Homo sapiens: one gene and its partners. The protein of the gene in region 1 purifies or fractionates together with the protein of each later gene. This does not show direct contact. Each region holds a gene or a part of one and is shown in the gene's direction. Other genes may lie near its edges.

Evidence for each region.
Region 2: the proteins of EYA4 (region 1) and SIX4 purify together in Homo sapiens (affinity purification with mass spectrometry; 2 studies listed by BioGRID and IntAct, with this or other methods). This does not show direct contact.
Region 3: the proteins of EYA4 (region 1) and SIX2 purify together in Homo sapiens (affinity purification with mass spectrometry; 3 studies listed by BioGRID and IntAct, with this or other methods). This does not show direct contact.
Region 4: the proteins of EYA4 (region 1) and SIX1 purify together in Homo sapiens (affinity purification with mass spectrometry; 4 studies listed by BioGRID and IntAct, with this or other methods). This does not show direct contact.

The regions. Positions count from the first base shown.
Region 1 is NC_000006.12:133,236,801-133,244,371, forward strand, and holds the start of EYA4 (protein phosphatase EYA4), read left to right. Parts: upstream 1-4,856; 5' UTR 4,857-4,949; intron 4,950-5,418; coding exon of another isoform or gene 5,419-5,611; intron 5,612-7,571. Other genes in the region: serine/arginine repetitive matrix protein 1-like, read right to left, coding at 3,986-4,856, 5,419-5,611. UniProt on the Homo sapiens protein: Tyrosine phosphatase that specifically dephosphorylates 'Tyr-142' of histone H2AX (H2AXY142ph). 'Tyr-142' phosphorylation of histone H2AX plays a central role in DNA repair and acts as a mark that distinguishes between apoptotic and repair responses to genotoxic stress.
Region 2 is NC_000014.9:60,721,347-60,728,638, reverse strand, and holds the start of SIX4 (homeobox protein SIX4), read left to right. Parts: upstream 1-4,287; 5' UTR 4,288-4,380; coding exon of another isoform or gene 4,381-4,383; 5' UTR 4,384-4,564; coding exon 4,565-5,427; intron 5,428-7,292. UniProt on the Homo sapiens protein: Transcriptional regulator which can act as both a transcriptional repressor and activator by binding a DNA sequence on these target genes and is involved in processes like cell differentiation, cell migration and cell survival.
Region 3 is NC_000002.12:45,006,450-45,013,909, reverse strand, and holds the start of SIX2 (homeobox protein SIX2), read left to right. Parts: upstream 1-4,457; 5' UTR 4,458-4,799; coding exon 4,800-5,359; coding exon of another isoform or gene 5,360-5,365; intron 5,366-7,424; coding exon 7,425-7,460. UniProt on the Homo sapiens protein: Transcription factor that plays an important role in the development of several organs, including kidney, skull and stomach.
Region 4 is NC_000014.9:60,646,476-60,654,437, reverse strand, and holds the start of SIX1 (homeobox protein SIX1), read left to right. Parts: upstream 1-4,960; 5' UTR 4,961-5,248; coding exon 5,249-5,808; intron 5,809-7,860; coding exon 7,861-7,962. UniProt on the Homo sapiens protein: Transcription factor that is involved in the regulation of cell proliferation, apoptosis and embryonic development. Plays an important role in the development of several organs, including kidney, muscle and inner ear.

The DNA.
Region 1 (7,571 bases):
CAACCGAAGAAAATAAATTCGGACTCATTCTAATATGTTAATGAGACCACACCTGGAACAATGCATTCAATGTGGGATACCTCTAACAAAAATGAACATCTAGGAAATTGGAAATAGTTCAGAGACAAGCAATAAGAATGATTATGGGTTTGTAAAGACTGAACTGCCACAAGATTAAAAGGCCTTCTATTTGTTTAACGTGGCTAACATGACTTAAAAGTGAGCATGATATCTGTTTATAAACATCTGAGGGCTGAGTGTAAGCATGGAAGAAGGAGTAGAGTTGCCTAATATGCTACTAAAATGATTCAACTGGAGAGAATTTTCAAGAGAAAATCTAAAAGTAAATATAATGAAGCTGTCTCCCAGAAAATGTGCATTTCCTTTCTTTCAGAGGCCCTGCCAAGAATGAGGAAATTTAGCAGGTCCCCTGAAGATTTGATTTCTTCACTTTCACAAACTAGTAGAAACCTTTTTAAGCTTGATCTGTCTGCACAAAATTACTCAGAAAGTGTGTTTATTTATAGATTTTAGAAAACCGGCAGCATAGGACTCTAGATTCTTGGGCAATCATATTTTATCTTCATTTATTCCTGTGGTCTGTCATCAGCAGAGAGGTAGATTAAAAGACTGTTCAACCTTGTTCACATTAAGGTTGGTCTTTAAAACTCCATACTTCCAAAGCTCAAATAGTTTGGCTTAGAATTTACTAAGAAACAACTGAATTATTGTATTTTTGAAAAATTGTGTATATTTCCAGCTAGAGTTCATAGATATACCAAAAGTTGCTCAAGAGATTTACTTTGGGATTATTTCTACAAGCATCCAGTTCTCTGCATTCTTTTTCAATAAATGTAGTGTCTTATAGCATTTTTTAGCCTAAAATCTGTTCTTACTAAAGTGAGGGCCTGGTTTTTCCCTTAAGGTTGCTTTTAAATGAAATTAAAACAAAAATTATGTTTTGGATTATGAGCTCCTAGAGCGCTTTGTTTAATTTGACTTATACAAAATCTAATGCCAAGACAGTGCCATGCACGTTTGAAAAATAAACAAATAGTAAATGGTAACTGCAGAGGCATCCCATTCCAGAGGAGTTGGTTAAGGGAATTGCTAATAAGTGAATCTTATATTTCCACTGATTTACCCTATAAAGTCTTATATTTTTTATCTCCCCACTCCTCCCAAAACACATCCCTTTTCAGACTGAGTTGAACATGTACAAATATTCTGAGAGCCTGACTCATGTCATGCAGGGCCCACTGGTGTTTTTGAATCACTTCAAGAATCTGGCAGCAGGTCTCTGACTTCAATTTCCCCCATGTGTCTTTCTAGGCCCTTTGCGTTTCTCCCACTGTTCTACTTTCCCTCTCTTCTTCATTGTCTGTACTGTATTGCACTACTGGGCTAATAGATGCTAGGGAAGGGTAATGAGTAACCGGTACAATATTTCAGGAAAGTGATTTGCTTTTTAATTGTGCATTTATGAATTGTTTGCATTTTACCACAAATAAGATAGTAAGTAAAACAATAAATAATACATGAATTTTAAAAAGACGCCTCAACTTCAGAGACTTCAAGTATATTTTAGACAAGAAAAGCAATAATTAAATAAGCACAGAATTTAAAAAGTAATACCTCAAAGTAAATTGGACACAACATTTTGTTCCGGTTATGAAAAGGGGAGGCTTGAAAATATCTCTTGGTGAGCCTGAGGGACATATGGAATGTAATTCTTTAAACCAATGTTTCTCAAACTGTATGTGAGATAATTTTAGGTGGTACATGAGAAATAACTTTTATTTCTACAATATAGGTTCCTTTGCAAGATCATCTTCTATTCATGGCGGGTTTTATTAGTTTTCCATTTATGGTGACTATAAAAAATGTCCTTTATCAGATAAACTTATTTAATAAAAATAGATTATTTAAAGATACATATTAAGTCAATAATATAGGCGATATGGCTATAATTATAAAAGTGATATTCAATGTAAATGCTGGAAATAAGGCCTCATTTAAGCAAACAATACATTTTTGCCTTTATAACCCTAAAATTCTGTTTCCTATGTTAAACTTATTTCAAATGTGTACTGAAAATTGACGTTTTATCTGACACCTAGTGGTGTCCATGTTAATATATGTATATTTAAGACAACTATTAGAAGGTAGTAATATGAAGTCAAATAACTAATATATTATCCTGGATTTTAAAAATAATTTCTGTACATGTATTCTTATCTAGATGTACAAAAAACTATGCAGGAGCAAAGTGACCTTGAAAGCAAGGTCAGTGTAACTGAAAAATCTGACTTTAGAAGGGTACAAAGAAACATGCTAAGAAAACCCACCCTATATTTATGTTAACAATATGCTAAAGTATGAATTTTTATTTTATTCAAATCATACATCTCCCACCTTTATTTGTAGGTGAAACTAGCACATAATGTTTTATGCCAAAATGAAATTCAAAATGTTGTTGCCTTTTGAGGACAGTATTAAATTCATCATTGTACTTAATCCTTACATGATATTTGCTATAGCCACAGAACATTCTTAGACACTATGATTCACAAAACATTTAAATTGCATATTTGGCTTGTAATATATTACATATTTAAAAGAATTACTATTTTTCTGAATACCATTAATACTAATAATAGCATCACAGTGACTAAGAGTGGACTTAAATAAAGGCTGGCTTGAAACTCAGGTCTGCCATTTATTAGCAAGCTTCTAAAAATTCTGAGCCCTTAGTTTTCTCACATGTGAAATGGAGAAAATAAATCTGCAAAATTAATTAAATCTGTCCATTCATATTTTTCTCTCCAGTGTATATTAACTGGCATTCCTCGTTAGGCCAGAATGTGCTCTCAACCATGCTCCAAATCCGCTTTGTGCCAACCCCACTGCCAGAACCCTTTCTACCTTGAGAACCAGAAAAGGAAACATTATGCCTGGCAATGCCTACACCCTCCAAAATAAATCTGCAGGAAAGAACACCCAGTAAGTGATGAGAGCAGCAACGACTGCCTTTATCATTTTAAATTTACAACACCACCTTTTCTAGAGCCTCTTAAGCATTGTAGATAATTCCCCACTCATTAAAAAATAAATTGTAACCATAAGTATTCAGGGTTGATACTGCTTTTGAATTAGACAGTGCTCATATCAGTTGCATAAGACCAACCTAAAGTAGAGGATGAAATCTTTTTTCTGAACCTTTTTCAGAACGTAACTTAGTGAATATATTAAAACTAAACTTTCTTTGAATGGGAGTAATTTCTACGGATTAATCTGTAATCTCTTAGACCACACCTAAGGTAATGTAGAGGTTGTTGTATCATAGGCTTTGTGATTAGAGACCACTGGATTTGTCTTTGGAAAAGTCACTCATGATTCTTTGGGCTTTGGTTTCCTCATCTTTTATACCGGCTTAATAATGACCACCGTAGAGTTGTCATGGAAGTTAAATGAACTCATGTACCATAAGTGACCAATACAATGATTGACACTCAGTGATTTATCAATAAATTAAAACATTTATTATCAATATGACAGAGAAGGTGCCGCTAAAATAGACAATAGGTTTTTGGAAGAGGTGATTAAATGGATGCAAAATTTATGGATTGTTTATTCCGTCTACCTTTGCTGTGTCCCCTGGTTGTGGCATACACACGTGTGGGTATAAAATCGTAAATCCTATGTAGTCGCGTAGTGCATGCGCAGAAGGCTTAGACACGAAATGTCATTTCAGCAATGTGCCTAGAGAAGCTCTGACGCCGCCTTGGAAGTAAGTCGTTGCTGCCTGACCTTTGGGCGTCTGGGACGGATGCCTATACCTGCACCCAGCAGCACTGGAAGGGGCCCAGGCCCTTCGCAGCACAGCCTATCCCCAGACCGCTTAGTCCTTCATAACATATATCTCCACGGAAAAGGGTATTTCCTCCCGTCAGAAAAAGCGCCCCAGTCTGGTCTGGGTTGGTTTTTATTTCACGTTGTTGCAAGTAGGCGAAGTCCCTTCTGTCTCCTCCCTTGGGGTAAGTGGAAAGGAGTCCGGCAGGGGGCCCGCAGTGGCCTGCACAGGGGAACTGGGTAGCGAGAGAGTTCCAGGCAATTCCGGGGGCTGCCCCACAGAAGCAGGTGGGGATCGACAGTGGCTCTCCGGCCCAGGGAGGAGAGCGCGGTCGCGGGTCCCTCCCCTCAGCCTGGAGGCTGCAGCCGCTCGAGTCGGCCCGGGTGGGGGCGGGGTGGGGGCGGCGCGGAGGGCACGGAGATTACGGCGGCGCCACCCGGGACATCCAGGGCCCCGAGGCCCTGGGCGGTCCCCACGCGAGATCGCAAACCATGACAATAGGCAGTCACCCGAGGTCAAATAAAAACGGAGTGGGTCCCCCGCGCGCCGCCGCCCCCCGCGTCCCTGGCGGCCTCCCCCGAGGCCCCCGGCGGCCTCACGAGCCCGCAGTAGCCGGTGGCGACGTCGCCCCCGCCCCACCTCCCTGCGCAAGTGCGAGGCTGCCGGCAGCGCGGCGCACGCTCCGGCCGTTCCCGGCTTCCGCGCAAAACTTCCATCCTGTCCACGTGAAGTTGTCGCTGCCTTAGAGAGGGGGAAAGAGCTGCGGGAAAAGCCGGGGAGTGACGACTGCGGCGGCTGGGCGCGCTCTCTCATTTTCTTTTCTTCTCCTTTCCCCCCTGTCGCAGTCCGGAGTTTTGGCTCCTCTCCTTTCCTCCTCCCCCTCGGAGCCGGCTTCTCCCTCCGCCCCGCTTCTCCCCCGCTTGTGTACGCTATTTGTTGTGGGGTGGCCGAAGGGGATGTCCTGTTTTCACCAGAGGCACAGCGCGAAGGGGAAACTTCGACACTGGAAGGAACGAGAATAAATACTTAATTACGGACGCACTGAACCGCGGCTGGGACAGACACTTCGGGAACCCGAGGCGGACCGGGCGACGAGGTGAGTGACCCCTTCTTCCAACCCCCGCCCCAGGGCTCCCGGGGGAGCCTGAGTTGAGAGAACCCCCAAACTTTCCGGGAAAGTGCGCGAGGCTCCGCCGGGGACGCCGAGCGCTGGGTACTGAGGACGCGCAGCTGGACGGTGCGTGGGCGCCTGCGTCCCCGGGGGGCGCTTGGAGGCCGGGTGCCCCACGCCTGAGGGCCCGGGCCGCTCGGACCGCAGCGGTGCTCTCTGCCCTAGAAGACGTCCCCAAGCCCCAAGGGTCCCTTCCGAGCCTGCCTGTCCCTTCCGGGGTCGGCGCGGAGCCTGCGCGTAACGGAGTTCATCCAGCAGTCCAGCGCGCGGCTTCTACCTGCACCCCGCCTCCACCTGGCAGAGGCGCGAGCATCGGGGTCTCCCCCACATCTTTCTTATGACGTGTATTACTTTCTGATGACCCCCTAGATGGTCCAGGCGCGAGGATGCTGACCCAGAGTCCTTCGGAGGGTCACAGGCGCCTGGGCTTTCCCGGTGCCGGGTGCGTGTGTACTTTAAAGGCTCGCGTTCTAATCTCCAGGCACTGATCGGGCTTTTCAACTGCGGCGATCCCACTTTAATAGTTTTTATGTGGCGTGGACTGAATGTCTCCTGCAGTTTGCCAGGGTCGGTGAAATTAGAGGCGCCTTGTCAGAGCAGTCGCGTTCATTGGCTCGAGTAGCGGGTGCCATGGAAGGCTTATAACTTCTCCAAAGGAAGGGACCTGGCTGGGTAGAGCAGGTTTTTCTCTCCTTCCAAGCCTGCTGGGTCTGGGGAGGCAGTGGAACTTGAAATGGCTCGGATTTTTAGCGTGGTGAAGCGAGGTTTGGAAGTAGACGTGTGTGTGCTTGTTTTATTCTGCGCCGCACAGCAACCCGAACTTTCGTTTGGTAGCACTTGAAAGAGTTTTCTCCCTTTGTTTGCGAGATTCTGAACAGCTCGGAGCGATTAGGGAATTTGCGGACCGAGTCCGGTGGCAGAGCTGGGGCGAAAGCAGAGAGCGCAATTTAATTTTTGTCATCTCTTCCCTGCTTGGGAGGATAGTGTTTCCCTTCACCACCACCCCTCTTTCTCCTTCCTATGAAGACAACGGATTTGCGCCTGGGGTGAGAGTGTGTGCGGGAGAGTGGTGTGGAGACTGTCCTCTCTCACCGCGTCTCCTGCGCCTCTCCCCGCCATCCCGAGCGGGCCTAGAGAGTCATTCATGAATCTTAACCTGAGGGCAGGGGAGGAAGGTGCAGGTCCCTCTGCCCTTTCTGCCAAGGTGCAGAATAGCGCCCGGGCGTGTGTTTTGGTTCCAGAGCAGTTCCACGTGGAGCAACTTCGTGTGTGTGTGTGTGTGTGTGTGTGTGTGTTGTGTACTTGATCTGTGAGGAGGTAACAGGACTCTGGTGTTCAAACCCAGTGGGCCGTTGGCCATTAGTTTGCTTTCCTGGCTGTCATTACAGACACTTCCAAAATCTGATACCTAAGAGAACCAACAGGTTAGGTTTCACATTAAGGGCTCATACTTAACAGTTTTCTTTCTCCCTTACCCCTTTTGGCTTGGCACCCTGGGATCAACGTAATTGTTGGAGCGAAATACACCTCCTGGAATATGGCATTTTGTTCCTCTTCTCATCTGTGGCCACTTTGTGAACCCTCGGGTGTTTGTCAGTTTCAGTGCGGGCTCCTGCGGGATTTAGGTGGGAGTCTTAGGAGCGTTTAACAACCGCGGGCTCCCCATCAGCAGCTTCTGAAGTTTCACTTACACGTAGGTGACTGACAGGATTGAAAGTTGACGATGGTTTTTTTGTTTGTTGCGTTGTTTTTGTTTTTAAAACCTTAGGGAAGGGATTGTACTTGAATTCCTTTCCCGGGTACGGTTTGGTTTTAAGCAGAATCAGTGCCTTTTTTTTTTTTTTTGTCTTTTAAAATATTATTGGCAAGCTTAAACCTGAAGAACCAAAAACTAGAGGGGGTGGGGAGAGAATCCCCCCAAAAAATATTTGATACGTGATACGGAGCGTTTTAGGAGACTGCATTCAAAGACATTTGTGTATTTTTAAAAATAACATTATCCCAAGAAACAAAAAGCAGTAGTAACAAGAGACAGATTGTTTTGTGTGGAGCAAGACTGCCAGAATCTGATTTTTATGGCAACAATATCGAAAGCAGACATAACTACACCCACATTTATTGTTATAAACCGTAAAAATAGTTTGTTCCACCTGATTAAAAGTTGTAAGTCATTCAAAGTTAAACCCGTATTTAGGAATGACTGTACAAGAATGTTAAAACCTTTGACAGCTACAGCTTTGAAAGCAACATAATTAGATTTGTTGAAAATGTCTCCTTTCTCTGATTATTAGTGATATGTACTTGTCTTTCATAATAAGTAAAGGTCTACAATCAATATGGTTTTCAAAAGCCTGTTTTCCTTTGTAAATTTCCTGAAAATAGTATGTTTCAATATTTAAAGACCATTGTAACTACCGGTTGGTTCACAATTATAACTAAAATAAGATTTACTCAGTTGTTTTCTTTTTATTAGTATTTGTTGAATATTTGAAATTGAATTTCTCATTTCCAAAATAAAACGTCTCACATATATGTATGTACTCACAA
Region 2 (7,292 bases), on another chromosome or scaffold:
TGGGATTACAGGTGTGAGCCACCACACCCAGCCCAAACTCACTGATGAATGAAGAAATCTCCATTCTTGATGGCAAAACCATCAAATATATTCAAGCAAAGTGTAAAATTTTGTGCTGCACCTGATTTTCTTCAATATACTAAAATGGCCAAAGATTTTTACCTACACTCATCACTGTCTTCAAGCTGGAAGGAAAAGACACAGAACAAGCAGCTTGGTTTTTTGCTCTTCACTCTCACACAATCCCAGCCTCAATCCTGTTTTCCCAAATCACAACACAGATTGATTTTTATTTTTATTTTAGATTCAGGGGGTACACGTGTAGGTTTCTTACATGGATATATTGCACGATGTTGAGGTTTAAGCTTCTATTGAACCCTTCAACCAAATAGTGAACATAGTACTCAACAGGTAGTTTTTCAACCCTTGATCCCCTTCGTCCCTCCCACCCCTTTTGGAGTCCCCAGTGTCTGTTGTTCCCATTTTTATGTCCACATGTACCCAATGTTTAGCTTCTACTTTTTTTTCCCCCCTATCATCCAGGCAGCAGCCTCAAACTCATGGACACAAGCAATCCTTCCACTTCAGTCTGCCAGGTAGCTGTAACTACAGACGCTCACCACCATGCCCAGCTATTTTTTTTTTATTTTTTGTAGAGACAGGGTCTCATTATGTTGCCCAGGCTGTTCACAAACTCCTAGCCTCAAGCTATCCTCCCAGATTGGCCTCCCAAAGCACTGGGATTACAGGTATGAGCCACTGCACCCAGCCTAGCTCCCACTTATAAATAACATGCAGTATTTGGTTTTCTGTTTTGGATTAATTCACTTAAGACAACAGCTTCCAGCAGCAACCATGTTACTACAAAGGACATGATTTCATTCTTTTTTATAGCTGTGTAGTATTCCATGAGCAACACAGTTTTAGACAGCATATCAATACAACAGACTCAATGTTCACAGCATGGCACACATAGGAAGTAGAAGCAAGTATTCATCAATTTTACAACACATTTGGCAAAACCAGTGCTCTGGGATAAACTCTACACACCTTCAGGTCTAGTATTCCATTCCAATGTAACTGACCATGTTTGAGTCTACTTTGAATTGCTGGCAGAATGAGCTCTGAGTGTCAACTGGCTAAAGGAACCTGGATCTTGGTGTGGATTTCACAGCTGGTCCTACTGGAGGTATGGAATAGCAATGTAGCTAGCTACAGGCTACAGATGTCATAAAAAGCCACTGTTGCTTCTATATAATCTGTTGAACTTGATGCTCTAGAGGCAAATATACAGAAGACATGCAGAAGTGGTTTTCCAAGTCAATGCACTATATTTGATTGATAATAATTCTGAAGCAGACTCCTGTGACCTGGTTTGGGATGGCTCCAAACATAGCCAAAGGAATTTTCACTAGGTATATACAACTAAAAAGTCTCCTACTTTGCAATATCAGGAAGAAGATAACAAACATTTACCAAGGATTAATTACTCACCAGGTGCTTTCTGGCACATCTTATCTCATTTAATCCTCACAACAACTTAGTCGACTTTTTATAGTCAAGTAGCTAATAAATGGAAGAGCTAGGATTAAACCTGTGTCTAGCTATCTGATCCTCAAATCCACATCCTTTCCACTAAACCACACCATATCCTGTCTACTTTGTTCTGAGAAATGTGCTTTAAAATTTCAAGGAATTAAATGCAACATGGTCTCCTGGATTGGATCATAGGACAGAAAACAGACATTAATGAAAAAAAAAACTGGTGAAATCCAAATAAAGTCTAGAGGTTAGTTAATAGAAATGCGCCAATGTTAATTTGTTTAGATAAATATAGCATTATCATGTAAGATGTTAAAATTAAAGGGAACTAGGTGAAAGGTAAGTGGAAACTCTACTATTTTGGTAACTTTTCTGTAAATGAAAAGCATTCCAAATAAAAAATATATTTTTAAAAAAATTTGGCCAGGTGTGGTGGCTCATGCCTCTAATCCCAGCACTCTGGGAGACTGAGGTGGGCGGATCACTTGAGGTCAGGAATTTAAGACCAGCCTGGCCAACATGGTGAAACCCCATCTCTACTAAAAATACAAAAATTAGCTGGGTGTGGTTGGCAGGTGCCTGTAATCCCAGCTACTCGGGAGGCTGATGCAGGAGAATCACTTGAAACCAGGAGGGGCAGGTTGCAGTGAGCTGAGATCATGCCACTGCACTTCAGCCTGGGCATCAGAGAGAGACCCTGTCTCAAACAAAAACAAACAAGCAAACAAAAATTCAAGGAAGTTCTGAATCTCAGTTATTGTCCTGAAGCTTGGTACCTAACTGGATGTTTCCAGTGGAGTAGAAACACATGGTCTTGGCCGGGCGCGGTGGCTCACGCCTGTAATCCCAGCACTTTGGGAGATCGAGGCGGGCGGATCACGAGGTCAGGAGATCGAGACCATCCTGGCTAACACGATGAAACCCCATCTCTACTAAAAATATAAAAAATTAGTCGGGCATGGTGGCACGCGCCTGTAGTGCCAGCTACTCAGGAGACTGAGGCAGGAGAATCGCTTGAACCCGGGAGGCAGAGGTTGCAGTGAGCCAAGATCACGCCACTGCACTCCAGCCCGGGCAACAGAGTGAGACTCCATCTCAAAAAATAAATAAATAAATAAATAAATAAATAAGCAAATAAATAATATGGCCTTTTCTGTTGTTATAAATTTTAAATCTACCAGCGATGTCAACACATTAGGGTAATGCAAAAACAAGTTAAATCCTACATCAAATGACATCTTGATTGACCAGCAATAAAATAAAGCCTGTCTACAAAAAAAAAGAAAATCTCACCAAGTTTATCATGACGGCAGGTGACCTAGACAGCTGCTTTGTAATATGCTGAAGTAGGCAGCTATGAGTAGCTGGGAAGCATACACAATACAAGGCCACCCTGAAGCAAAGGTTAGGATGATGTCATTAAAATGTTGAATTTTGAGAGGCCGAGGCGGACGGATCACGAGGTCAGGAGATCGAGACCATCCTGGCTAACGTGGTGAAACCCCGTCTCTACTAAAAAATACAAAAAAAAAAAAAAAAAAAAAATTAGCTGGGCGTGGTGGCGGGCGCCTGTAGTCCCAGCTACTCGGGAGGCTGAGGCAGGAGAATGGCGTGAACCCAGGAGGCGGAGCTTGCAGTGAGCCGAGATCACACCACTGCACTCCAGCCTGGGCGACAGAGCGAGACTCCATCTCGGGGGGAAAAAAAGTTGAATTTTGAGAAAGAGCAGCAGCAGGCAAACCCAACTGACCTACAGTAATCAAAGAAGCAGAAATGGATCATCCCTTTTGGAATTAAGATCTTGTGCAAATTACAAAGGAAAGAGACACAACTGCAAACAACAAAAGACTCTACCCCCACTTCAGCATCAAACCAGAGGGCAATCTGTCTATGCTGTGGAAAAGGGCTTCTGATCCTGCACTGATCTGGATGACACCCGCACATTCAGTGTTTCTAGCCTATCATCGTTAAAAAAGAAATACTCATATACTTACATTAAAAAGTTCATGTAGAAAACTTAAATTTCCATATTTAAAGCTTAGATCTCTTCCACACGACTCATCCAGGATAAACTTATGGTTTAATATTCTACATGTTTAATTATACCATGTTCAACTCAGTTGGGTTGCCAGCCCTCCACGTGGCTTAAGGTTAAGTACATTTTTTGAAGGCTTCTTGTTTTTGTCTTCTCAGTGTGCTATTTATGCTGCTAATTATAAGGTTTTCAAGCATTTTTCCCTCTTTGGAATTTTAATTTACTGTAAATGCTTGCCCCTTAGAACATTTCCTAGTGTCATTTTATTTTTGACCGTTTTGAATACAAAATCCTTGATAAAGACATCCAAAAAGAGGGAGAATGGGGAACAGGGACATACTGGGGGGCTTCTGAATTGTCCTCTGAAGTTTTGTCATCTAGATGCTGAGGGTGGTCTCTTTGTTAAAAATTTAACCATCCAGACCTTAAGGCCACACAATTAATATTCCCTCTGGAATTGTAGGGCCTCTGTTTGAAAGAGTTGTCCAGTTTTCAGGCCACATTAGGTAATTTCCCGCCCAGGAGCGTGGCTTGGAAAGAATGTCGGTGTTTTCCTTCAGGTATAGGTGCCTGGGGGTCAGGAGGGGAGGGAAAGGCGAGGGGTGGAGTGGGAGGCGGGTGATCGACAGGGATAGAAACTGTGTCTCCTCCTCCCTCTGAATGCGAAATAGCCAATGAGGTGGCTAGGCCGGGCCGGCCCGGCCGCCACTGCCATATAGTATGCAGCAACCGGAGGAGTCACGTTGGGGGAACGGCAGAAAGCAGCTATCCGTTTACACTACTTTGCTCTAACAGCTATCTTAATGGTGACTGCGTGGCCGGGGGGAAACCTGATCGGCCAGATACAGCCGAAACCAGGAGGGAGGGAGTGGGCTTTCCGGAGGGGGAGAGGAGGGAGGGAGACGAAGGAGGAGGAGTAAGAGAGGAGGAAAGAAAGAGGAAAAGAGTGCGAGGGAGTGAGGGAGGGAGGAAAATAAACAACAAAAAATGTCCTCTTCCTCCCCCACCGGGCAGATCGCAAGTGCGGCGGACATCAAGCAAGAGAATGGGATGGAAAGCGCCTCGGAAGGGCAGGAGGCGCACCGAGAAGTGGCGGGGGGCGCGGCGGTAGGGCTGAGCCCCCCGGCTCCAGCCCCTTTTCCCCTGGAGCCGGGGGACGCCGCGACCGCTGCCGCCAGGGTGAGCGGAGAGGAAGGGGCAGTGGCGGCGGCGGCGGCCGGAGCGGCGGCGGATCAGGTACAACTCCACTCGGAACTTCTGGGCAGGCACCACCACGCCGCCGCCGCCGCCGCGCAGACCCCGCTGGCCTTCTCGCCCGACCACGTCGCCTGCGTGTGCGAGGCACTGCAGCAGGGGGGCAACCTGGACCGCCTGGCCCGGTTCCTGTGGTCCCTGCCCCAGAGCGACCTGCTACGTGGCAACGAGAGCCTGCTGAAGGCGCGGGCGCTCGTGGCCTTCCACCAGGGCATCTACCCCGAGCTCTACAGCATCCTCGAGAGCCACAGCTTCGAGTCGGCCAACCACCCGCTGCTGCAGCAGCTCTGGTACAAGGCGCGCTACACCGAGGCCGAGCGAGCCCGCGGCCGGCCGCTGGGAGCCGTAGACAAGTACCGGCTGCGCAGGAAATTCCCCCTGCCCCGCACCATCTGGGACGGCGAGGAGACGGTGTATTGTTTCAAGGAGAAGTCGCGCAACGCGCTCAAGGAGCTCTACAAGCAGAATCGCTACCCTTCGCCCGCCGAGAAGCGGCACCTGGCCAAGATCACCGGCCTCTCCCTCACCCAGGTCAGCAACTGGTTCAAGAACCGCCGGCAGCGCGACAGGAACCCCTCCGAGACCCAGTCCAAAAGGTGAGCGCCAACTTTCCTCCTCCTCCCCCTTCCTCTCCCCCACCCCCTTCCCGGCTTTCTTTTCCTCCAAGTGCTCGCAAACATGGCGCTTACCTTCCCCACCAGCCTGGTCCGGCTGCCCACCTCTCCCCGCCCCCTACCTCGCTCCCCGGCCGGCAGAGGTAGGGGGCGGCGGAGGCGGGGGGCGGGGGAACCTCCCTCCTTACCCTCCCCCTCTCCCCCCAGAAGTTTCTGGTCGCCCGCCTAGGTCTCAGTCCCCGCCCCCACCTCGGCTGGTCACTGCTGCCCAGCTTCCCACCCCCATCCCGCTGGCTTTGAAGTTGCCACCCTCTCCCCGTTTCTGGAGGGGCTAACGAAGCAAATGTGGACACCGGCACCGTAGCTCTCCCTGCCGCCCGAGGCCCGCAGAGACTGCCGGCGCCGGCCGGGGTCTGCACCTCCGCGAGGTCACACCGGGCCTGGCGCGCGCGCACGCTCCCGGATCCCCAGGGTTCAGCCGCCCCCCGGGCCTGCGCTGGAGGTCGCGGTGGCTGCTCTGGTGAAGGGAAGAGAGTGTTGTGGGACTGGCGGCGCAGAAGGGGTCTCGGAACGTCGAGGTTTCATATGACAGAGTTAATCATTCACCCTGCCCCTATGGTTCCCTTAGCGGCCGCGGCAACGTGGGGTGCTGGTGCAGCTCGGCTCTGTCATGTTTTGAAACCTGATTCTGAACTCCTTAGGATCGGGTTTCAGCGCAGCCGGGGTAGCAGGGCTGAAGGGCTGCTTCCTCCCTCGGCCCCCGAACGCTGCTTGGCTCCCTCCTGGTACGGTAGTTATGGGTGGGGGGCAGGCCGGCTTACGGCGGGCGGCAGCAAAGGAGTGGGGGCGCTCCCACCCCACTGGGTTTGAGCTTTTTGCCTGGCAGACTGCTTTCCCCCTCTGGTAAAAAAAATACCGGATTTTCCACCTCTTTTGTGCGTCCTCCCGAGTCAGACACTTGGTGTGTGCGTCTGTGTGTTTTGTTGGACGAAACAAAGTAAGGAGAAGGTCGCCTAAAGACCTGGTGTCTCCAGCCCCGCGGGGATAGGAGAGAAAGAATCCAAAAGCAGCTCGAAGGTTCTTCTCGGGGAAGCAAACTGGGAGCCGGGGATCCAGCCCGCCTGCGCCAGGTGAAGGTGATCACCAGCGCATTCCAGAGCCGGTCTCAGCCCGCCCTTGCCGCTTCTGGGCCCCTGTGGGGGTCCGACGGCTCGGGCTCCGGCGTTCCTCGCCCAAGGCTGGGAGGGAGGCTTGGTGCCCTATCCGGCCCTCGCGGTAACCAAAACAAAAGGTGCACCGGGATGTGCGTGCGCCTTCCGCAGATATGCGGAGAGGTCCAGAGAAGGCGCTTTGGTTACGCCGAGCCACCTGCCCTGCGCCCACTAGAGGCCGCGGATCCCGCGCTCGGAAACCAACGGAATCCGCAGGGCCGGGGCAGAGGGTGGCAAGGGGGCACCGCGAGCAGGCCAGCTGCTCCGCCGCCTCCGCTCGCGAGCCGGGCACGCTCCCTGGGACTCCCCCACGCTCCACTGCTGGCTTCTTCGTCCCCCCCGCCCCACCCCATAAACTCCACACCCACCCCGCCGCCGGCCCAGTTGCCTGGTTTAGGCCCCTCTCCGGATCTACCTCCCACCCGCACCCCCGGTGAGTCACCCTCGCAGACGGCGACGGCGGCTCAGCCTCAGCTTGTAAATCAAAGCGCTTTCTGCGCTCCTGGCCCCGCAGCCCAAAGCCCGGGTAATCCCCTCCCCTCGGCATGAAAGCGAACCGACCGCGGGGCACTGCGGGGATGTCGGATCCTCTGCTGGGCCAAGTCCTGCTGCGCTTCCAAAACGCCTCTGTTCTGC
Region 3 (7,460 bases), on another chromosome or scaffold:
GCCTCCAGGCTGGCCCCGAGCCCCTGTGCTCGTTCTTTTCGTTTGAACAAGATCCCTCGTGAGCCCGCGGCCTCTAAACCGTTTGCTCTTGTGGGCCCTCCAGGCTGCCGCGTGGGTCTCAAGGTGAAGGCCTGGAGGGCAGAGGGGTGGCGGTGACCCCGTTGCTCCAGCTCTCGGGGCCTGTGACTGCCCCAGCCACGTGCGGCGCGGGCGACGCCGCGGTTCGCGCGGTTCCAAGAGTGCGACCGCCCGGAGCCCAGCGCCTCTCAACCTTGCCCGGGCTCGGAACGTCGCGGGGCGTGTTCTCCGACACAGAGAATTCGTGTGAGCCGACTGGCCTCGCCCTGACCTGCCCCTCTTAGGACAACACGGAAAACCGCTGGTGCAGGGTTTGCGAGTAGCTGGTTGCGTCCGCCGGGACCCGACAGACCGGCAGGTACGAGGGGCAGGTGGGGAGGCACCGGAGCCTCAGCGCAGCCCCGCCCGGCACCACCTGCCCGCTTTCAACGAAACACGTCGCCCAGGCCCAGAGAACTCCGGGACTGTCTGGGGAACGCGCCAGGCCCATGTCGGCTGGGGCGCTCGGAGCTGGGAGAGGGCGGAGAGCCTCCATCCAGGCCGGAGCATCCCAGAGCCCGAGGTGCGGAGCAGCATGGAGCGCCCGAGGCGGGCGGCGCCAGGGCCAGAGTCTACCCAGGGGATTTCTGCCGCCTTTATAGGCTGGAAAAATAAAGATCAAAAACAAACCGAAAAAAAAAAGCTCTGGTCCCCTGACTTGGCACCGAGCACCCGCCCCCTTCTCTTTTTCCCTCTGTCACAAACAAGGTTTCTGATTTGCCCAGAACAAAGGCCTACCCATCCGCTGGCCTTGGAAATAGCCAGAGAGCAGCTCCTTCTTCCTAGATTACCCTATTCTTTGCGAAACGGCCCCATCCCAAAACCAGGGAAGCCCTCGGGAGGCCAGTGGGCTGACTTCTTCCTTTGCCCAGAAGTGCACCCGCTGGGCGCGGTGTGCCAGCCCTGGGCTGCCCAATGGGCGCCGGACAGTAGGTGCCTTCTGGCTCTGTCCTGGGCGCTTCCTGCCCAACTCCAGGCACAAAGACCCCAAACTGTCCCTGACAATTCGTCTGGGACAAAGCTATTCCATCAGCCTGAGATCACTGGGGAGCACCCACCCACCCCTGCTGCTGCTTTCCAGAAAGTCTCATCCTCCCAGGGACTTCAGGGAAGCTTGGAGGTGAAAGGAGGTGTTTCAGTAAAGCTCAAATTTCCATGGTTCCGAAAAGGTTTCTCCCCCTAGCCATGGAGTTTCTCCCGTTTTTGCTGGATAAAAAGCAAGCACAAGCCTCTTGGGAATGGGTCTTTGGACAGGAAGGAGGACAGGGATTCCGGAGATTGGAGTGAGGTAGAACCAAAAGTTTCGGCACCCCGTAGGCCTCTCAGCAATTGCTCTGGGCACTGCAACTAGGGGGCTGAGATTGTCATTGGCTCAGGCTGGCTATTAAATCCTCATCCAGACACCTCCCAAGTATTCTGTTCTGTGGCAAAGACTATCGGGGAATGGGCCAGGCAGGGAAGGGGCTAAGGAGTGTGAGGAGACCCTCATTCAGCATGTAACCCAGCTACTGCTGCTACCAAGAGGTTCTGGCCCAGATGTGCTGGAACCAGTTTTCTACATACATGGGGGAGGAGGAGAATGAGGGGCATATTGACACACACCCATACATCGGGTAACGGTGCTCCAGGTTTTCAGTGCTTCCTCTGTAATGACTTTTCATATGGCACACAGTATGTTATCCACGGTGGCAGGCCCCATGTCTGTTCTGTTCTCTCTGTGCTGCTTAGTGTTGCCTGGAGGCTCCTGGCAGGTCTGATTCATGGGCTTAGGGCCCAGGGGCTGCAAAGAGGGCAGCACTTGGAGGAACAGTGAGTCTGAAGCTCCAGAAAAATCTGCTTTCACTGAACATAGGCGGGACCCAGTCCTGGGGGAAGTTTAATCTTAAAGCTTCATGGGTCAGAGGAGTGGCACATTCATGGTGAAGGCTGTGGCTGAGGTTGCAGAGATTGTATGCTTTTTCAGGGTTAGTGTTCTTAGACCCACCCCATCCCAGAACCAGCAGGAACTTGAGAGATTACCCAGGCTTCAATCTAATAGTGGAAGAGAATGAAGAGCAGACTGGGGACTGGCCCAGGGTCTCATACCAGGAAGTGACTGCCTGGTCTCACTCACCCACACCAGACCAGGGTGCTCCTCTGCAGCCCCAGCCTAAGCACGCTAAGATGTAAGATGGCCATTGCCAGGGCTGGGACCAGCCAGCCAGGTGAATCCTTTTAACCACGTAGCTGAAGGAGACGTGCTGAAAAGAGTACGTTGCACTTTTGTTGGAGGTCAGCAAATTGGGCTTTGAACCTCATCACAGTCTGCGGTAAATTCTTCTCCATGTCTCCCAGGGTCCTTAGATCCAACTCTGGGGCAGCCCCTGTGCAGCAGTGCATAGGACTCTGGATAGGGTGGCCTGGACACAGCAGACCTCCTCCCAGCCCACAGATACAGACTCTAAAGATGCCACCTGGATTTCTGCAGAAAGCTTCCCCTTTCTGCACCCGCACTGGCTTGGGACCTACTTTGTCAGCCCTGTGGCCTCATTCAACATGCCAGGGTAGGCCCCTGGAAGCTAAAGTCTTAAGAGGAGTCCCAGGGTTCCATTCTCTCATGCCTACAACACTCCCAAAGGACTTCCGGAATGCTGCAGCACAGGGAAAATTTTTGAAATCTTGCAGAGAAGGAAATAAACACAAAGGCATAAATATATGCCTTACCATAGACACCAAGCAAAACCAAAAGTTGAACCCAGGGCTCTAGACTCCCATTCCGCGCTCCTAGCACAAACTCCATAGAAAGCATAAAAGGGTGGGAAAGAAGGAACTGGCCTAGACTCGGGTTCCATAGCCCTAGACTGGCTGAGGGCAGAGCCCAGGATTTGTGCTGGCTTGGGTCAGGCACTGAGTATGGCCCTAGGAGCTCCTGGCCTGCAGCAGCTGAGGGGGGAAGAGGAGGAAACTGAAGGAAGTGGAAAGGACATGTCCGGGAAGGAGCTAAGCCCCGGGCTTTTCAAAACGTAGAGCAAGAACACACCCATCCTCAGTTCTCCCACCTTTGTGCGAGCCCTTCTCCCACAGGACCAGCACCACATGTTTCCATTGGCACCCTGACAAAGAAGCAAAAAACAGGACCCCCTTTTAAAGCACCTCATCCCGGAGCTCAGCGAGCCGGTTCCCAGGCTGGAGTGGCCAGGAGCCGAGCCGATCCCCAGCGGCGAAGCGGGAGGACTGGGAATCTTGCCTCCGTTCTCCTCCCCGACCACCCACCGGGGAAGCCCCACCACCGTCCTAGAGTCCCTGCCGTCGCCCCTCTCCCCCGCCCCGGTGGGCAGACTGCGGGTCTGCGCCGTCCGGGGTTCTGCGTCGCAGCTGCCGGCCGGAGTCAGCTTCCATAGAGGCCACACGGAACTGCCTGGCGCTCCTCGGGCTGTGGGACCCGTGGGGTTAAGTCTGAGTCCCCGCCCGGCGAGGAGCAGAGAGCGCAGAGTTGGGGCGGTACAGGCCGCCAGGCAGCCGGCGGGGCTAGGAGAGGGAGGAAAGGCGGGATCCTCCGGGAAGTCGATTCTCCGGCGTCCGCCTGCGGCCACTGCCAAATCTTCCCCATTTCTTTCGTCTACTCCCTCCCCTTTTCCCTCGAGGACCGCTGAGTCCAGAGTTTCTAGGATGGGGGTGGGGCGCTGTCAGCAGAAAAAGCCAAGTCTTTGGGCGGCACCCGAGCACGTCCAAACTCTCCCATCCCACTGGCCTGCGCCGGGGTAGAATGTGCCCGGTGAACAGAGAGCCTGGGAGGGACGCGGTGACCTGGGGAGAAGGGGAACCCTGTAGGGTCTGGGCGAGGCTGCAGAGCCCTCTCCTAGCCAAAGCTGCCCAAACTTTCTTCCCCTGGAGTCTCCTTCCACCCCTCTCCCTCCCCTTCCTCCTGGACACCCCCTTAAACGGTCTCCGCCTTCCCTTCTCTCCTCTTCTCTCCCCACCTCGATCCACCCCTTTTCGTCTTCGCCCGCTCCCCCCGCTCTCCTGTCCTCCTCCTCCCTCCCTCTTTGGGCATCCGCCCCGTCAATCTCCGCCGCCGCCGGCCCCAACCCGGCCCCTCTCCGCCTCCCAGGCTCTCAGAGCGCCCCAGGCTCCAGTAGAGCCGCCCTCAGTTCTGCGCGGAGCGGGGCGATCTGTCAGCGGAGCCGGCCGGGGGGAGCCGCCCGGCCCGCCGAGGCTCGGGTTACCAGTGACTGACAGCGTCTCCATGGCGAATAATTTGACTCCGACTATTGTCTGGCGCTGGCAGGCCCCGGGTCAGATAACCGGACCAATCAGGGCGCGGGCCGCCGCGCCTCATGCCCGCTTAGAATAATATTATTAAGAAAGCTGAGAGCCAGCTAGACGGGAGGGAGAACGAGTGAGAAGCGAGCGAGGGAACGGCGGGCGGGCGCGGAGCATGCGGAGCGGCGCCCCGGGCGGCCCCCGGGCTTGGGCGAGGGCTTGGGCCAGGCGCGCGGGCCGTTGGGGTTCGGAGCTTCGTGGGACCCGCGGCCGGCGCGGGGACGTACGGCAGTGACTCGGGGCTCACCGGGGGCCAGTGCCGGGCCAGGGGGCCAGCCCCGCCCGCGTCTCGGCCCGGACGGCCCGGCGAGGAAGCTCCCATGCGGGACCGCGCGGCCCGGTGAGGGCGCGCGCGGGCGGGCGGGGACGCAGCCGGCACCATGTCCATGCTGCCCACCTTCGGCTTCACGCAGGAGCAAGTGGCGTGCGTGTGCGAGGTGCTGCAGCAGGGCGGCAACATCGAGCGGCTGGGCCGCTTCCTGTGGTCGCTGCCCGCCTGCGAGCACCTTCACAAGAATGAAAGCGTGCTCAAGGCCAAGGCCGTGGTGGCCTTCCACCGCGGCAACTTCCGCGAGCTCTACAAGATCCTGGAGAGCCACCAGTTCTCGCCGCACAACCACGCCAAGCTGCAGCAGCTGTGGCTCAAGGCACACTACATCGAGGCGGAGAAGCTGCGCGGCCGACCCCTGGGCGCCGTGGGCAAATACCGCGTGCGCCGCAAATTCCCGCTGCCGCGCTCCATCTGGGACGGCGAGGAGACCAGCTACTGCTTCAAGGAAAAGAGTCGCAGCGTGCTGCGCGAGTGGTACGCGCACAACCCCTACCCTTCACCCCGCGAGAAGCGTGAGCTGGCGGAGGCCACGGGCCTCACCACCACACAGGTCAGCAACTGGTTCAAGAACCGGCGGCAGCGCGACCGGGCGGCCGAGGCCAAGGAAAGGTACGAGTAAGTAGACCTTCTTCGGCGCCAGCTCCCCGGGGCCCAAGGGAGGGGTTCGCAGGGCTTCTGCCGGTCCCCCGGAGAGGCCTAAACTGGGCCCCCAGGCCCGGCCACAGCCCAGCGGCAGCCCGGCCTGACTTGGACGATGCTTAGGCCTTTCTATGCCGGAGACCCGGCGAGCAGGGATTTGTCTAAAGCGGGCAGAGCAATTCAGGAAGTTGTCAACTAACTACTCGGTCGCTAGAGGAAAAGGGTGGAGAAGCAGAGAGCTTCGGGGCAGCGCAGAACTGTGGGCCTGTATCCCCTGTGAGGCAGGCACAGTAGGTCTGGTCATCCTCAGGACAGAGGGGTTTGAGCCCAGATGAAAGGGGATTTGCAGATTTCTTGCTGGTGGTGCTTCCCGGCATTTCCCCCCAGCCTTAGCTCCAGGCCAAAGTGTGATGGGGTCGGGACTGGGGCTGGAACTTCCCTAGAATGACCTGGATGGGGAAAAGCCAGGCCATGAATTTTCGTTGTCACATGGAGTTGAGAGCGGGTCCTTTATCTCCTTAGAAAGGATCCAGAGGTGAAAGGGAGGAAGTGTCAGTTCTGGGAGAGAAGAGACGCATGCCCTGTTTTCTGCCTTGCTAGAGATAGCCGCCCTTCCCTGGCACTCCAGGCCCTTGATGCCTCTCTCCTTAGGCCCTACCTCTGATGGGTAGGTCGGAATGTCTGCGGTGAGCTGAGAGGCACAGAGGGGCTGGGAGTTGGATGTCCTCAGGTAAACCAGGACTTCCTGAACCAGCCTAAAGGTTGATCATTAGGCCCTTGCCACTGCCTGCCCTATAACCCCTCAGGACCTCAAACCTGGAGAGAAACTTATTATGGGAACAGAATCCAGCCCGGGGTAAGAGCAAAACAGGACACCTGGGGTTGGTGATATGGGGTGTGTTCCACCCTGAGTTTGAATGATCAGGGTCAGAGGTGAGGGTGCTGAACCAGAAACATCTTAGGGGGAGTGCTGCAGGCTCAGATACTTCCAGGTATCTGAGACCCTGAGGTTGGAGTTTCCACAGTGGTGAGGTCTCAGCTGCCAGCCCTGTGGGAAGCTCCCTCCCAGGAAAGCAGAAAGAAAAACCCTCCCGAAGCTGGTGACAAGAGATCCTACCCAGGATTTTAAATATCCAAATCTGGGGAGGAGCTGTCAGTCAAAGGCATAGAAGGAGGTGGGTTCTCTCTGCTGGGTCCCCCTCCACCCAAACCGGCATGTGATCAGACTCCTGAAAACCTGGGTTCTCAGACCAGGCCCCAGATGAGAGCTGCAGATTCCCGGAGTGGCTGGTTACAATGGAAAAGCCTCGGCCTTCTCCCAGGGGCTGCCCTTTATCCCCCAAGCTTCTGGTCTCCGAGCTGACGTTTTCACTGTACCACCACGGAAAGGGAGTCCTCCATCCTTGGACCCTTGTCTCTAGGCCCAGCAAGGAGAGCCCTCACAGGGCTGCCCAGTTTGGAGCTACAGGGAAAGGACGCTTAGCCCCAGGAGCCTGTCTCCCAGCCAGGGGTCTCCCTCGGGCAGAAAAAGCAAAGGGAAATGAAGTCTTGTGAGAGGCCCTAAATCCCTTGACCTGGGATCCAGGGTTCCTTAACCTGCTAGCCCCACATCTACCCAGCAAACCTGGCTTGTGGAGCCTAGAGTGATCTGAAAATCCAGGCATCGTCTCTTCCTCCCGGCTCACCCCACAACTTCAGGGAACCCTGTTCTCCTGCACCTCTGTTCCTGAAAAGAAATATTGGGGAAGGGGGGAAAGAGGAAATATAGAAAAGATATTGATGAGATTGACAGCATGAGAGGTGGGGACGATAAGGGCAGAGGGGCAAGAGAAATTGGGTGTTGAGAGATGGAGAGAACGGGCAGAAAGGAGAACCCAGACCAGGTCGAGGAAATGGTAGAAACCGAAAACACCCGCAGGCCACAAGCCCGGGATCTGTCTCCCGAGGCTGGTGGCTGGCTCTGACTGTGACTGAGATGGCGCTGGGTGGTCTCGATGTCCCTGCTGACCCCGCTGCTTTGCTCCCGCACTTGCAGGGAGAACAACGAGAACTCCAATTCTAACAGCCACAA
Region 4 (7,962 bases), on another chromosome or scaffold:
GAGCTGCAGGCTTTCACCTCCCAAAAGGAAATTCTTTTTAGCTTAGACAGATGTGGTATTCAGGATGTACATAAGTTGAGAAAAAAAAGTTGATTGGAAATTCAATGGAAGATAGCGGTTTTGGAGAGTTTCATTTCATAAACCTGCCCTAAGGAGACATTTTAAAAAACAGGGAATGGGGGGTGGGGCGCAGAGTCCCTTTAATTCTTAAGAATTGTTTCTTGTGACACCTTGGCTCCACTTTCCAGAGAGGTAGTTGGCATCTGATGTTGAGTAGGGTCTTCTAGCTCAAACCTGGCGATTGGTCAGAGCTTTCTCAGAGGGCAATTTGTTAACCCTTTTCTCCCCTAGGTGGCCAATACACCTTTGCCCGCCCTCCGTGCAGGCTACACCATCTATTGCCCGCCCTCCACTCCCTGTGAAAGGTTCTCGCCAAGTAAGGCCTACTACACCGCCCAGACTTGAGGGTCTACTTTCAAGAGAACTTACCTGCGCTGCCTCAGTGGGTGACATAAGCACACTCTGTGAAACCTCACAGCGCCCAGTCCCGGAGAGAAAAAAACGAGCGCCCAGAGCCGAGGGGAAGGGAGAGGGAGGGAAGGAGGAAGAAAGAGGAGGATGAGAAGAGGAAGAGGAAAAACAATGAGAAAGAAGAGAGAGAGATAAGGAGAGAGAATGAGAAACAGGTTCACATACAGACAGAATGAACGAGCGTCCTCTTTCAGATGGAGAAAAGAGTTAGAGACACACTCTGGGAAAGACCTGCCACGGGGACACACGTAGAGGGAGAGAGAGAATAACTCTTCCAAAGACACACACCCCAGCTCTGTTCCCCTCCAGTCTGAGCTCCCTCCCAGTGCTTGACCCTCAGTCGGTCCATCAGTCTGTGTGTGTTTCTCTCTTTCTCCCTTCCCTGACCTCGAGACAATACGGAGATGGTATTTTCGGGAGCCGCGCGGGGCGGCAGGGTTTTCAGCGGCGAGCCAGGCTCACAGCTGGCTCTGTTTGTCCAGGTGTGGGCGGTGGAGGTGGTGGGGGGCGTCAGTCGCCCTGAATCTTGGGCCAGCGCAGCGTTTTCGCACCAAAGAAGTAGGAGGCTCTGCTCTCGAGCTTCCCGCTTCCAGGAGAAAACTTCCTCCCTCCATACATACATAAATACACTTGGGGAAGAGACAAATCTTCATTGTTCAGAAATAAGCTGAGGAGGCCCGCCTGCTCCCCTCAGCCAGGCAGAGCGAGGCAGGGAGGGAGGCGGGGGCCGCGCGGATCCGGTGTCACGTTGCAGATTCCCACTAAAGATAACGAAACGTGATCTATTTTTCAGAACAGCAAGTGGATGGGAAAGAACCTTGACAACACAAAACTCATTTACTAATGGACTGGTTTTGGGTTTCTCTTCTCTGAGTCCGCAAATCTCTCTGCCTGAGCCCCAGGCCTATTCAGACCTCGCGGGGAGCGGCGTCCCCCAGGAGCAGGTGGGCTGCTGCTCCGGCGCCACGCCGGCCATCGGAGCCGGAGTTCCCAAGGGTCGAGGGCACCCGGAGTTTCCGACTAAGCAGAGGAAAAAGAATTTTGGCACTTCAGCCGGATTTGGGGAGTCTCCGCACTGCCCCAGAGCGATGACACGAATTTATTGAAGAAACACCTCTCTATGCCCTCCCTTTCCAAATATTTGTAGGTAGAGTAGAATCCTCACCGTCGTTCTGGATGGTGAAAGAATTCCAAGAAAGCGGCCCGGGAGCCCCTAACTATCTTGCTACAAGCCAGAAGGGAAACAAGTGGGTCCCAGCTAGGGGTGTTTGCATCAAGGCCTGTCAACCCAGCCGAGAAACCCTAGCAACAGCTAATGCTGTCCCACTGAATGCTTTTTCATCGACTAAAGCGCACGCGGCCGTTACCTGCACAGAGGAGGCACTGGAGAGCCGAAACCTGGCATCGGGCGCTCCTTGCCAGCGGTGTTCCCTCCCGAGCCGCGCTGCAGCGAGGGCAGCAGCCGGCTGGCTAGAGTTGCTCATTTCCTTTAAATCTCCAACGCATCTCTGCTTTTCGTGCGATTTGCATTGACAGCAAAGGTTTTATGTTACGAGAACAACTCAAACCTTTCTGTGTGCGATTTAAAATGGATCATTTAGTTTAGGTGGTTTGTAAATTCATGTCATTTTACCTCTTTCAGCGGTTTTCAGTGAAAGGTTCCATTTTGGGAAACCTTATATATCCGAGCCAATAATTAACATTTATAACAATTGGTTCCCCTAACCGAGGGATCGAAATAGCAGGTAGACTCCTTGGTATAAAGCGCATAGCACTTTCCCTTTCCAGTTACGCGATCTATTGGATTAAGCGGGAGGAAAAATGTTGGCCGGCCCAGTCACGGCCTCCGAGGAAGAGCACCTCTTTTCTGCCCGGGTTCCCGCAATCACACCTTCTACACGTCGTCTTCCCAGATGACGGCAATGTAGTACGTCCTGGTTCCTTTTGAAGACAGATAAAAAGAAATGGGCAGGTAGGTCTGGAGGAAGCCGGGAAAAAAAGGTGGTCCTATTTGTGTCTAATTGCCATCTCTGCTGTCATCCTCTGTAAATTTATACCTGCCCTTATTTGTGCAGGCTATGCCTCATTTCCTTATACAAAATTGTTAATTACAAAGCACACCCCATACTCAACATACTGTTTGTCTTTTAAGAGACGTGGTTGTGCTTAAAGACCCTCCCCCCATTGTAATTGTGCGCACTTGCTCCAGACTTTAGGGTATTAACTGATTTTTAGAGCCGGGTTTAAGCCTCCGTTCCGGTCCTCACACAGCTGCCATGTCAATAAGGACTGTTTCAAGCAGAGGCATTCCTTCTGGGAGGGCACTGCAGCTCCTTAAGACTTCATGTGAAACATCATAAGCACTAAAATAAGACAGTGAGGGGAAATTACCAGACATGGCTCTGGGTTTAGCAGTGCCAGGCTTCCAGTTTAGAAAGTCATTGGGCATACTATATGGCAGAGGCTCTTTTGAAAGCATGCACACCTATTAAATGCATTTTTTTAAAAAAAAAGCCTAAGGTAATGAAATATCAGCATCTGCTTCCAAGATCTAATTGCATGGAATAAGCAAGAGTTTCAAGGATGCAGAAAACATTATGTTCAGCAGAGAAGCAGCTTCCTGTCTACTTGGAATCTCCCATGTGGCAGCCCTGAGGTGGGAACCCTTTATGAGTTTAGAATGTATGTTGCAGGGTGCACTGTACTGGGTGCATCATTTTAAAACCATATTAATAATAAAAGAGGAAACCAAGACATGCTTCTCCTTCTCCCACTTGCATCTCAATATGCAAAAGGTTCTGTAGTGCTGGGCTCTTTGGCTAAAGGAATCAAAACATATTTGAAGAAGACAAGCCAGTTTAAGGAGCCTACAGTTTGTTCTTCACCACTCACTAAGAGGGCACATTGAAATCAAAAGCATTTTTGAAGTGTACTTAGAATTCTGTTTTGAACTTATCTAATCAGAGATAAGTATAGTCATAAAGTCACTCTCCTTCCACCATTTGGCTTCCCTTATCTCCACGCATTGTTCTTATCTCCTGCTAGTCTCAGCTACTGACAATAGATTATCTTTGTTTAGAGAGGCTAATTGTTTTCAAAATCCTTTTAATTATTGCTTTGGAACTAGGTGTGCAAATGAGGCTTAAGATAATTACAACTTCACTTGTTTGTGCAGTTTTACTAAGCATTCTCCACACATAAACAAAACAGCAGATGATGGGACTTAAATTGCAGTGCATCTCTCATTCCCTGGCAGCAAAATAGGCCAGCATTGCAACACACACACACACACACATACACACACACACACACACACACACACCTCTTTATTTAATCTTCTTGGAGCCGCTGTCGTTCTCGCTTTGAGGGCAGTGTCCCTCTCAGAGCAGGGTAAGGATTATATTACAACCGGACGGTTATTGGAGCCGGGCACAGTTTTATTTAATTTACACCACATCCAGCGCCTTTCGTACGAGGTTCCCAAAGCATTTTTGCTAATAGCAAGTAAAGCCTCTCGGCATTCCTCAGTAGCAGAGGTGGCACTGCAAAACACAACCGCACAGATGGGGAAATTGAGTCCAGAAGCTTCAGGAACCTGCTGGTTTCAATCGCAGAACATTAAGATACCAAATCACAAATGAACGCTCGGAGTCTCTAGGTGCTCAGCAAGTATGCTCTAAACAGCTCTCTGCCTGGTCTCAAATCATGGAGGTCTTTTGTGAACGAGGGAAACGCTGTCCGACTGGGAGTACTTGTGCCCTTTGGAGGGTGGTGTGCAGCAGTGGGGGGAGGACAGTGGTAGTTGGTGGGGGGAGGGAGGAGGAAATAGGGTTGGACTCCTCGAGCTGAAGCCAACCCGAAGCCACTCTTCCAGAGGCTGCATGCGCGGACCCTGGTCTGCTCTTGAATTATTTATCGCGTTCCATAAGCTATTCATCAATCCATTATTTATTCATTCCAACATTAAAGTAATTAAATATGAGCTCACCGGGAGAGGGCAAGTCTGCAAGGGATGAGGACAAGAGTACGGAGGGAGAGGGGAGGAATTAAGGTTTGGAGTCATTGATTTGTGCGGAGTTGTGCGCGACTCCCCTTAGGTGATACTGGCGACGGGTCCCGCGTTGCAGGGTCCTGACGCGCTCACCCACTCCCTACCTCCCCACACCTCCGCAGCGCAGCTCCCTCAGACCCCAACTGGCTTCCCACCTTTCCTCTTCCTTCTCCTCCCACCACTCCCTACCCGCGCAGCCCCGGCAACACCCCCAACCCCCAGCTCCGCAGCCTCGCCCTCCCCGCTCTGGGCGGTGCGGCCTCTCTGCCCAGCCGGGCGGCGCGCTGGCTGGCCAGCCCCGGATAGGCGCCGCCGGCAGCCAATCAGCGTGCCGGGGACGCTGCGCGCTTTAAGGCCGCTGCGGGGAGAACAGAAACCAAGTTCCCCGGCAACTAGCAGCATCCACCGGGCGGGAGGTCGGAGGCAGCAAGGCCTTAAAGGCTACTGAGTGCGCCGGCCGTTCCGTGTCCAGAACCTCCCCTACTCCTCCGCCTTCTCTTCCTTGGCCGCCCACCGCCAAGTTCCGACTCCGGTTTTCGCCTTTGCAAAGCCTAAGGAGGAGGTTAGGAACAGCCGCGCCCCCCTCCCTGCGGCCGCCGCCCCCTGCCTCTCGGCTCTGCTCCCTGCCGCGTGCGCCTGGGCCGTGCGCCCCGGCAGGCCCCAGCCATGTCGATGCTGCCGTCGTTTGGCTTTACGCAGGAGCAAGTGGCGTGCGTGTGCGAGGTTCTGCAGCAAGGCGGAAACCTGGAGCGCCTGGGCAGGTTCCTGTGGTCACTGCCCGCCTGCGACCACCTGCACAAGAACGAGAGCGTACTCAAGGCCAAGGCGGTGGTCGCCTTCCACCGCGGCAACTTCCGTGAGCTCTACAAGATCCTGGAGAGCCACCAGTTCTCGCCTCACAACCACCCCAAACTGCAGCAACTGTGGCTGAAGGCGCATTACGTGGAGGCCGAGAAGCTGCGCGGCCGACCCCTGGGCGCCGTGGGCAAATATCGGGTGCGCCGAAAATTTCCACTGCCGCGCACCATCTGGGACGGCGAGGAGACCAGCTACTGCTTCAAGGAGAAGTCGAGGGGTGTCCTGCGGGAGTGGTACGCGCACAATCCCTACCCATCGCCGCGTGAGAAGCGGGAGCTGGCCGAGGCCACCGGCCTCACCACCACCCAGGTCAGCAACTGGTTTAAGAACCGGAGGCAAAGAGACCGGGCCGCGGAGGCCAAGGAAAGGTACGCGGCGTGCTTCCCGCGACTCGGGCGACCCTAGGAAGCCGTCCTTTCTCCTCCGCCCCCTCCCGCCCCCGCAGGCACCAGCCACCAAGTCCTCCCCGCCGGCCGGAGCCCGTCCACGGGGCGGCGCGCAGGCCCTCCGCGGCGCTGCAGCGAAAGTTCATGAACTCTGAGGTTCCTTGCTAAGGATGGGGCCTCATTTGCTTTGAGCACCCGCGCGTGGGTTTCTCTGGGATGTGAGTGTCGGGAAATATTGGCGCTAGATTTGGTCTTTATGCCTCCCTGGCTGGCCGCGGCTATGAGTGGTGGGTGGAGAGTGAGTTTCTAAATCAACGGGCAGTGAAATGTTGATTGGTGTCGCAAGGAAAGGGGTTTGGTGGGAGCTGAGGTTCGCGAACCTCTCTCCTCTTGCTCCCCAGAGGGGTGAAGCTGGCCTGAGACATTGGCTCTGCCCCCACTCCCGCCTGGTTCTCCACAGCTCTCTCTTGATAGTCTTTTGGTTTAGAGGTAGCCTGCTTCATTTCTCACTAGCTGGACAAATGGAGGAGACTTTTAAAGATACAACAAAAAGAGAGCTTTGGGGAGAGTTGGCGCTGCATTTACTCCCCGGCGCCCCAAATTAAGAAAGGGTTGATCCTCGCCGTGCTCGCTCGCGCGTGGCCCGGCACTGCAGCCCGTCGGTCTGGCTGACCGCGCCGCATGCCCAGACGAGGAAAGGGTCTCCAGTCGCAGCCCTCTCTCGCACTGGAGCTCACAAGGCAATATTTTAAAAATTGGTCTCTACTTTCCCCCACCTCGGGGCAACACCTTCGGCCACCTGGGCAGGCTCCTTCTGTTCTCTATAGCGTTTCGGACAGAGATTCAGAAGGACGGTGGGGAGGTGGCTGTGGCGGGGAGAGCGCTCCGCGAAGCCAAAGAGTTTGGGGGAAAACCTGAGCGCAGGGGCCGGTTAGGTTTTCCTTTGTTCGCTTCCAAGACTAGGGGCCGAAGATCTTGCTCCCTTTCTTGTCTTGGTGGAAAACCAGAGCCAGGATAAATTCTGCTGAAATGGGCTTGTCGGGAGACAGAGACTGTGAGGATAAGGGGAAAGAAAGGAGACAGACAGGCGCTAGGAGTCGGGAGGACTGACGAGCACTCGGAAGGCGGAAGCGGCGAGGGAAGCGAAATCCTGAAGTTAACCGGTACCGAGTGCCCGGACTGACGCCCCAGCGCGCCGCGCCCGCTGGCAGCCTGTGCGGGGCGGCGAAGTTTCCCCTGCCCAGAAAGGATGGGTTGGGGTGGGTGTTGGTAGGAAGTTTGAGAGGGGGACACGAGGGGCTGAAGAGTTAGCAAGTAACACAGGAACAGGGATTGTATGGTTGCAGTTAGCCTTTAGTTACAAAACGGCCGTCCTATAAGCCAGGCCCGAGGGCCGACTCCAGATGAAATCAGAGACTGGCTGCGCTCCCTGTGTTTACTCAGGTCACTGGGCCGCGCTGGGCACCACTTCCCATGACCTGTTCTGTGTCTGCAAAACCACCAACTCTGGGCTGGGGCAGGAAAACGGGATGTTTAATTGTCTCCTCATATGCGAACAAGGCAATGGACTTGATTCACCCCAAACATTTGTGCATTGGACTCTGTCCTCTATCATTTCTTTATCACCAATATCTATTTATTGAAAGATTTTCAGTTACATTTAAATATGTTGCTAGTTTATATGTATTTAAATGTAACTGCTTGAACAAAATTTAAAACATATATTTTGTATGTTTCAAATAAATCCTGCTAATCTATCACTTTCTGAAATCTGGAAGAGAAAAGGACCTGGCTCCTAACAGGAGGCTCTGTCCGTAGCTCTCCATTTCTCCAGGTTCCTCTGACTCCTCACCTCCCCCATTACCCTTGGGGATGGGTGGAAGGGTAGAGCTCCTCCATTTGGGTTGGTGACAGATTGCACAATGGCCCTTTCCTCCTTCCAGCTCCCCTCCCTCCATCTCACACTTTTTTTTTAACCTACTTTTTTTTTTTTTTTTTTTTTTTAACCATATGGTGTTGTCCTCTATTTCTTAGGGAGAACACCGAAAACAATAACTCCTCCTCCAACAAGCAGAACCAACTCTCTCCTCTGGAAGGGGGCAAGCCGCTCATGTCCAGCTCAGAAGAGGAATTCTC